Homo sapiens: one gene and its partner. The protein of the gene in region 2 purifies or fractionates together with the protein of the main gene of each other region. This does not show direct contact. Each region holds a gene or a part of one and is shown on either strand. Other genes may lie near its edges.

Region 1 (3,818 bases), on a different chromosome or scaffold from region 2:
GTATCTTGTGTCAACATTACAGCTGCCTCATCTATAAAATGGTATTTCACAGCCATTATGGCATGGTACTATTGGAAAGATTTAAATGCTAATGCATAAAATGGACCTGGCATAGTACCCTGAGACACAGTGAGTCTACAATAATTAATAGTTTATTAGCAATTAATAAAATAAGTTCTCTTCCTTATTTTAATATTATATCCTACTGTTTAGCTTTTCAGGGTTCTCACATTACCAAAAATTGAACACAAAACATCATTAGCAGTATATTCTAGCGAAAACTGGTCTTAAGATTCCTGATTCAGACACTAAATTTCAATTTAACATCTATGTACTGAGTACCCACCTTATACCAGGCACTGTACTAGGTACCAGGGTTACAAAGATAAATAAAACACAATTCCTGCCTTAACTACTTCCTCATCTAGTAAAGAAGCCAGATGTGTAAATAAATATGACTGTGTTAAGTACAAGGTACAGGGCTGGCACAAAAGAAGTAATCAGTTTCTCTTATGGTCAGCTAAACCTTCACAGAAAGGATGAGTTCGTTAGGCAGAGATTGTGGGGCGTGAAACAGCATGGCAAATTTGGAAACTCTTAAGTAGTTCAACATGGATGAAACATAAAGTTCATATCAGAAGATATGATGGAACAAGGAGAAAGGGGTCAACTAACAATTTGCCCTCTTTCTTACAGGCAGGCAATGGAGAATTATACTGAAGGGATTCTTCGGCTGGGCAAAAACATGATTAGATCTGCATTCTAAAGACTGCTCGCAGAGTAGAGGATGGATTGGAGCAGGGAGTCTACTGCAATAGTACAGATGCGATAGTGAAGACTTCATTTAAAGCAGCACCAGCAAGAATGAGGAAGAAGGGATTAATATGAAAAACGTTAAAGAGGTGGAATGTATAAGGCTCGATGGCCGAATGATGGGAGGTAGGAATAGGGAGTGTGTAGAAGGAGTCTAAGATGACTCCCCGATCTCTGGTTTGGGGGAAAAAATGGGTGGGGATATCATTAACTAGGGCAGGTAGTAATAGGTACCCAGCCTCCAAGACGGCCTGTTCCATGATCCCTGCCTCCTTGTATTCATGCTCCTGTGTGAACTGAGGTCTGCAGCAATCACCTGAGTGAGTCTGGAAGCAGATTCTCCAGCCCAGCCAAGCCTTGAAATGACAGCAACCCCAGCTGACAGCTAGACTGCAACATGGTGAGACCCAAAGCCAGAACCACCTTCCTAAGCTACTCCCCGATTCCTGTCTCTCAGAAATTTTGTAAAATAATAAAGGCTTGTTTTACACTCCTAAGTACCAGAGTAATTTGTTACGTAGCAACAGACTACTAATACTTTGGAATAATTTGTTACATAGCAATAGATTACTAATACAGACTTTAGTCCCTGGAAGTGGTGTACTGCTGTAACAAAAATGAAAAACATGGGAATGGCTTTGGAACCAAGCAGTGGGCTTTGAGGCGTGTAAATGAAAACCTCAAGAAAGAAGCCTCATAGTCTTTGGTAAGGATGCAGGTGAGGACATGGAGGAAAGTGAGGTAATGTTATCAGAAAGCAGAAGAAGAGGAATCCTGGTTAAGAAGAGGCGGAAGGCTTAGCAACACCATTCCTTGCAGTAATGTGGACTGTAAAAAATCAATGGGGTGATGTAACTAAGATTTCCAACCAGTGTTCACAGTGCCACCTGGGTTTTTCTTGTGCTTATGTGAAAAAAAGAGATAAGCTAAAGGAAAGGCTGTTAAACAAAAATGAGCCAGGATGTTGGGGATTTAAAAAATTCTCATCTTCTCCAGATGTGAAACAATGCTAAAATTAAGAAATAACTTCTGAGCAAAGACCAAATCCAAGGCACTGCCAGGAAAACATGGTCCAAAGATAAAATCAAGGATATGACCATAAAATCTTAAGACCCAGAAAGATCAAAGGCACTAATCATTCCAACAAAGGGTGCTATTAAAAATTATAAAGAATGCACCTCATAAATCCAATTAATCACACAATAGGGCTTAATTAAGAGCACTGTTATCAGCAGAAACTCAATATATTTCAGAGATGTGTAGGTGGTGTGGCTTTTGACTAATAAAATGGAAGCCAGTAACATGCACCAAAGACCTTCCAAGTTTTTAGAAGAAATACATATGCAGAAGCATTGCCAGCTAGAATTGAAAGGGATAGAAATAGGATAAAATAAAGTCTTTGAACTCTCAAAATTCTATTAGCAGTAAGTAGACTGAGAAAACCAACCAGCTGTAAAGCACATGCTTTCTAGGGATCACTCAGAGGGGTGGAAACCAAGAGCCTAGAGGGCAGGGCAGACAGCCATGGAGAATTATTCCAGGCCTTCAGACCTAATCAAGAACATCCAACATTTGCCACTTGATTCCAGAATTGCCATGGACCAATGACTCCTTTGTGTCTCCCATTTCCGCCCCTTTGAAGTGGAAGGGCTACAGGAGTTATCCTATGCCCATCCCACCACTGTATGTTAGGTATATGTGGGGCAGATAAATGGTCTCTCGAGTCTCTCAGGCCAACAGTGTACTAAAGAAGCTATACTGAAGGAACTACACCCAAGGAGCCACATCCACATCTGGTCCTGATTTAGATGATGAGATTCTAGATTCTGAGCTGCTGCTGTAATGGGATGACACTTCTGAGGGCCTTGGGAGGGGGTGAGTATATTTTGCATATGGGAGGAACTGAATCAGTGGAGGTTAGAGGGGAAACGGTGGTAGTCAGCCTCCAAGATGGGCTCCAATAATACCGGCCTCCTGGTATTCACACCCTTGTACTGTTCCCTTCCACATTGTGCTAGGATTGGTCTGTGATCAAGAGAATATGAGAAGGGCTAGTGTATCACTTCTGAGCTGTTATTGAAAACAGGCGTCTATCCTCGGCACTCTCTTACTTACCTACTCTCTCGGACCTCTCCATCTGGGGCAAACAAGCTAACATGTGCTAAGTAGTCCTATGGAGAGGATAAGGTGGGAGGAACTAAAGCCTATGGCCAAAAATCAGCAAGGAACTGAGGTTTGCCAACAACCACTTGAATGAACCTGAAAGCAGTTTCTCCAGACCCAGTTAGGCCTTGAGATGACTACGGATCTGGCAAACACCTTGACTGCAATCTGGTAACAGATCCAGAGCAAAAACCACCCAGCTAAGCCAGTCCCCAATTCCTGACCCTCAGAAACTATATAACAAATGATAGCTGCTTTAAGATGCTAAACTTTGGGATAATTTAGTATGCAGTAATAGATAACTAAGTGGTACAGAACTATTAAAATACGCTGAATCCTAATTATCATATGTTTTATTCCTTTCAGCTGTTATTTCATGGGTTTCTATACAAAGAAAAATCAACAATAAAATCGTGATTACTAATTTCCTCTAACGAAATGACACATCAAGTAACCACACCTTAGGGGTGTATATGATATACACAGAAGGTTCTGCCACTACTGCCAGCTATTACACCACGCCAGAACAGGACTATAATTGAAGAGCAGTGATAATAAATCAGTTAACAAGAAAAGGAGTGGCAAGAGGAAACCATCTGCACAGAAAGTCCGTTGAAAAGGTAGACTAAGGAGACAAAACTGCTCCAAAGGAGTCAGAAGAGCAAAATAACCAAAATGGCAAACAGCTTGAAAGAGAAATATCCTTGCTAAGCAAAGAGGTGGTAAAAAGGAAGGTGGGGACTGGTAGAAACAATGGAATTTCAAATAGAAAGCAACCCTTGGAGGGACTAAAGAGAGAGAATGTGGATTTTAAAAGTGTGAATGAGACATTATCTGAAAAC
Region 2 (3,818 bases):
TTTCCAGAAGAGTTCAAAGGAGTTTGAAGCTGGCTTCAAGTGTAGGGTTCAGATCTTTTCCAGGGCAGATACTGATTCTGCCCTGGGACCACTGTGCCCTTCATGCCATGAATCAAAATTCTTGGGTCCACCTTAGAAATGCTTGGCAAGGGGAGGAGAATGGTGGCAGGTGGAGTGTAGGGATGGGGAGACGTCCGGACAGTCAAAATCCTGGGGCCTCTGCTGCCCAGGTATTCCCCCAGGGAAACTAATTAGCATAATAGTATTAATACTGCTGCTAGAAGCTCACACCGGCTGACTTTCTGCCAGGCACTTTCTGTGTGTTGTTGCCACAGCCACTAATTTTTTCCCCATTATAACACTGCAATGTAAATTCTATTATTAGTTTAGGCCCGTTTGACAGATAAAGAAACCAAGACACAGAAAAGTTAAGAATTTTGCCTATCCTAAATCAAGCACCAGAGACACGGGGGAAAAATTGTACCTAAGTGTACACCACTAGAAAGTGGTGGGGCCAAGATTTGAGCCCAGTCAGCCTGGCCCCAGAGTCTATGCTCACAGCCACTGCATCCTATAGTGTCTCTGATACCCACATTAGGGCAGCAAGAGGGGCTGTTTTGCCCTGAAAACTCCCTGGGGACAGGCCGGAAACCCAAAGACACAGGGACAAAATTTCATATTTTTAATTTCTAGGTTAGAGAATCTAATTCTGTCTGATAAAAAACACACCTAGGCCGGGGGCGGTGACTCACGCCTGTAATCCCAGCACTTGGGGAGGCCGAGGCAGGCGGATCATAAGGTCAGGAGTTCGAGACCAGCCAGGCCAATATGGTGAAACCCTGTCTCTACTAAAAATACAAAAATTAGCCAGGCGTGGTAGGGGGCACCAGTGAGCCGAGATCGCACCACTGCACTCCAGCCTGGGCGACAGAGCGAGACTCCATCTTAAAAAAAAAAAACAAAAAAACACCTAATTTCTTTTTTTTTTTTTTTTTGAGATGGAGTCTCGCTCTGTCACCCAGGCTGGAGTGCAGTGGCGCAATTTCGGCTCACTGCAACCTCCGTCTCCCAGGTTCAAGCGATTCTCCTGCCTCAGCCTCCTGAGTAGTAAAACATACCTAATTTCTAATGGCCATCCTCAAAGGGACTGCAGCTCTCTTAGAAGTCAAATTTTATTATAATTGAAGAATTGTAAAGGGTCCTAGAGATCTTCTCATCTGATGCTGTGTACCTCTTCAAGGTCTCAGAGATTTCCCAGGAAAAAAAGGTGCAACTGTGGCCGGGTGCAGTGGCTCACGCCTGCAATCCCAGCACTTTGGGAGGCTGAGGCGGGCAGATCACCTGAGGTCGGGAGTTTGAGACCACTCTCACCAACATGGAGAAACCTTGTCTCTAATAAAAATACAAAATTAGCCGGGCGTGGTGGCGCATGCCTGTAATCCCAGCTACTCGGGAGGCTGAGGCAGGAGAATCGCTTGAACCCAGGAGGCGGAGATTGTGGTGAGCCAAGATCACGCCATTGCACTCCAGCCTGGGCAAAAAGAGCGAAACTCCATCTCAAAAAAAAAAAAAAATGTGCATCTGTTAAAGGATCATGAATTTCCTGAGGGATCCCATCTGTCTGAATGCTACACATGCTCTCCCTTCTCGGAGAAATCAGAAGCTCCCCTCAAGGGAGCAGGCCCAAGGTCATGGACCAAATCTCACTCTCTTCTTAGATTGATTCCTGAGCCCAAGGAAGCCAGAGCTGTCCAGGCCCCTCCTGAGACAATGTCACATGTCTTCTTATGTGTCCAGCCTGGCAGGTTCATCTGAGGGTCCTTCCTGGTCACACCCACAAACCACATCACAGCTAGGGGCATCATGGGTTTCACCCTGCCTTATAGAAGTGTCCACTGAGGCTGGTAGAGGGAGCGCAAAGTCAGAATTCCTTCCAGCCTTCCTCGAGAGCTCCCCTGCTCCACCACCTCCTGCAGGATGTCCTTCCCCTAATCCTGCCAGATGGGATCATGTGCCCTGTGAAGTTCCCACATCCCCCCAGGTGACTCTCTCTCCTTGCTTGGATGTAAGGGTAGGGTCAATGGGTTTGTCTGCATTGCCCACAAGAACGTGAGCTCCTTGGAGCCAAGTGTGGGTGTCCATCATCTCAGATCCCTAGCATCTACCCCACAACTGAGCACGACTTGTTGCCCTGCCAAGTGAGGGAGCAAGCGAGGAGATGGGGGTATCTTTTTTTCTTTTTCTTTCTTTTTTTTTTTTGAGACAGAGTCTTGCTGTGTCACTCAGGCTGGGAGTGTAGTGGTGTGATCTTGGCTCACTGCAACCTCTACCTCCCAAATGCAAGCGATTCTCCTGCCTCAGCCTCCCGAGTAGCTGGAACCACAGGCGTGCACTACCACGCCAGGCTAATTTTTGTATTTTTAGTAGAGACGGGGTTTCACCATGTTGGCCAGGATGGTCTCAAACTCCTGACCTCAGGTGATCCACTGCCTCGGCCTCCCAAAGTGCTGGAATTACAAGCATGAGCCACTATACCCAGCCGGAATGGGGGAATCTTGAATGATAAGGAGGCAAGTTCCCAGGAAAGTTGAAGGAATTAGAGCAGCAACCTTGGACAGGAAGCAGAAACTGGGTCTCTGCGGCTGAGTGGGATCGGCCCTCAAGCTGTCACTCTGTAGAGCAGAGCTCTGACTGGTGAGAAAATCCAGGACCACTGGGCAGCCCAGGGGTGGCCAGCAGCTGGCCAGGACACTAGGACCCCAGGCTGGGCCACCTTCAGCCCTCATAACTTCTTCCCTCCCTGCACTTGGACCTCTCAGACTTAGAGTCCCTAAGCCCCAGGGGAAATGGCTCCAGTGTCCACCCATAGCTTAAAACCTGGACACTCTCCGGGTGCCCAGGCATGCCAGGACCACGTCCAAAAGCCTGATTGAGAGCTGCGTTCTGCCACAGCCAGGAGACATGGAGGTCGAGGACACAGACTGTGGAATCAGTTGGACTCAGGAATCCCCGGGCAAGTTACAAAATTCCTTTGAGCTTTAGGTTCCTCAGCCTCACGTGAGACTGATGTGAGGATTAAGGGAGATAATGTGGGCAAAGGGCCAGACTGGTATGTAGCACATAGCAGATGCCTGGCAAAGGGTAGCTGCCACCTCAACTGTACTCACCCAGTCCAGAGAATGAAGTCTGGCTCTGGCTCAATCTCCTTCATGGCATAGATGGAGGAGTTGATGAGGGCCCAGGGAGAATCACAGAGGTAGTCACCCCAGGGGCCTGCGTCGGGCACTGGCTGGGATCCAGCTGATGGGCACACCTGGAAGGGGTCTTTGGATACCTTGTAGTCAGGGTCAAGGTGCAGGTCAGCGATGTGCCAGAACTTCCCTGCAGGGGAAAAAACATCCTCCTTCAAAGCTGGTCTCTCTCTCAGCCTGGAAGCAAGGAAGTCCAGGGGAGCCCTGGGCTGGGGCAGGGGCGTTACACAGGCAAATGGAAGTCTTCTCTGAGCACCCCGGGTTCAGAGAAAAGGCCCACAGGCCTGGCTCTGCCCAGGGACACATTGAGCAGAGCACAGAACAGGCTCAGCTCCATCCCTGAGCGCTGACCTTTGGCAAGGCCCCGTCCTCCTCCCCACATTGGATGGGCAGCCACAACATTAGAGCTCAGGCATTCTAATGAGGGGGCTTGTTTTAAAGCAAAGGCGGGAGAGGGTATGGGTTAAGTGCTCAGGCTCTGAGCCACTTAGGAGCTGTGTGACCTGGGCTATGTCACTTTTCTAAGCCCATTAACTAGAGCCATATCCTCTCATGCTGCAGGGAAAT

What was found.
Region 1: the proteins of SMPDL3B (region 2) and FARSB fractionate together in Homo sapiens (co-fractionation; one large-scale study listed by BioGRID). This does not show direct contact.

Annotation. Positions count from the first base shown.
Region 1 is NC_000002.12:222,649,590-222,653,407, forward strand, and holds part of FARSB (phenylalanine--tRNA ligase beta subunit), read right to left. Parts: intron 1,311-3,818; exon of another isoform or gene 697-1,310; intron 1-696.
Region 2 is NC_000001.11:27,944,795-27,948,612, reverse strand, and holds part of SMPDL3B (acid sphingomyelinase-like phosphodiesterase 3b isoform 1 precursor), read right to left. Parts: intron 3,382-3,818; coding exon 3,168-3,381; intron 1-3,167. UniProt on the Homo sapiens protein: Lipid-modulating phosphodiesterase. Active on the surface of macrophages and dendritic cells and strongly influences macrophage lipid composition and membrane fluidity. Acts as a negative regulator of Toll-like receptor signaling.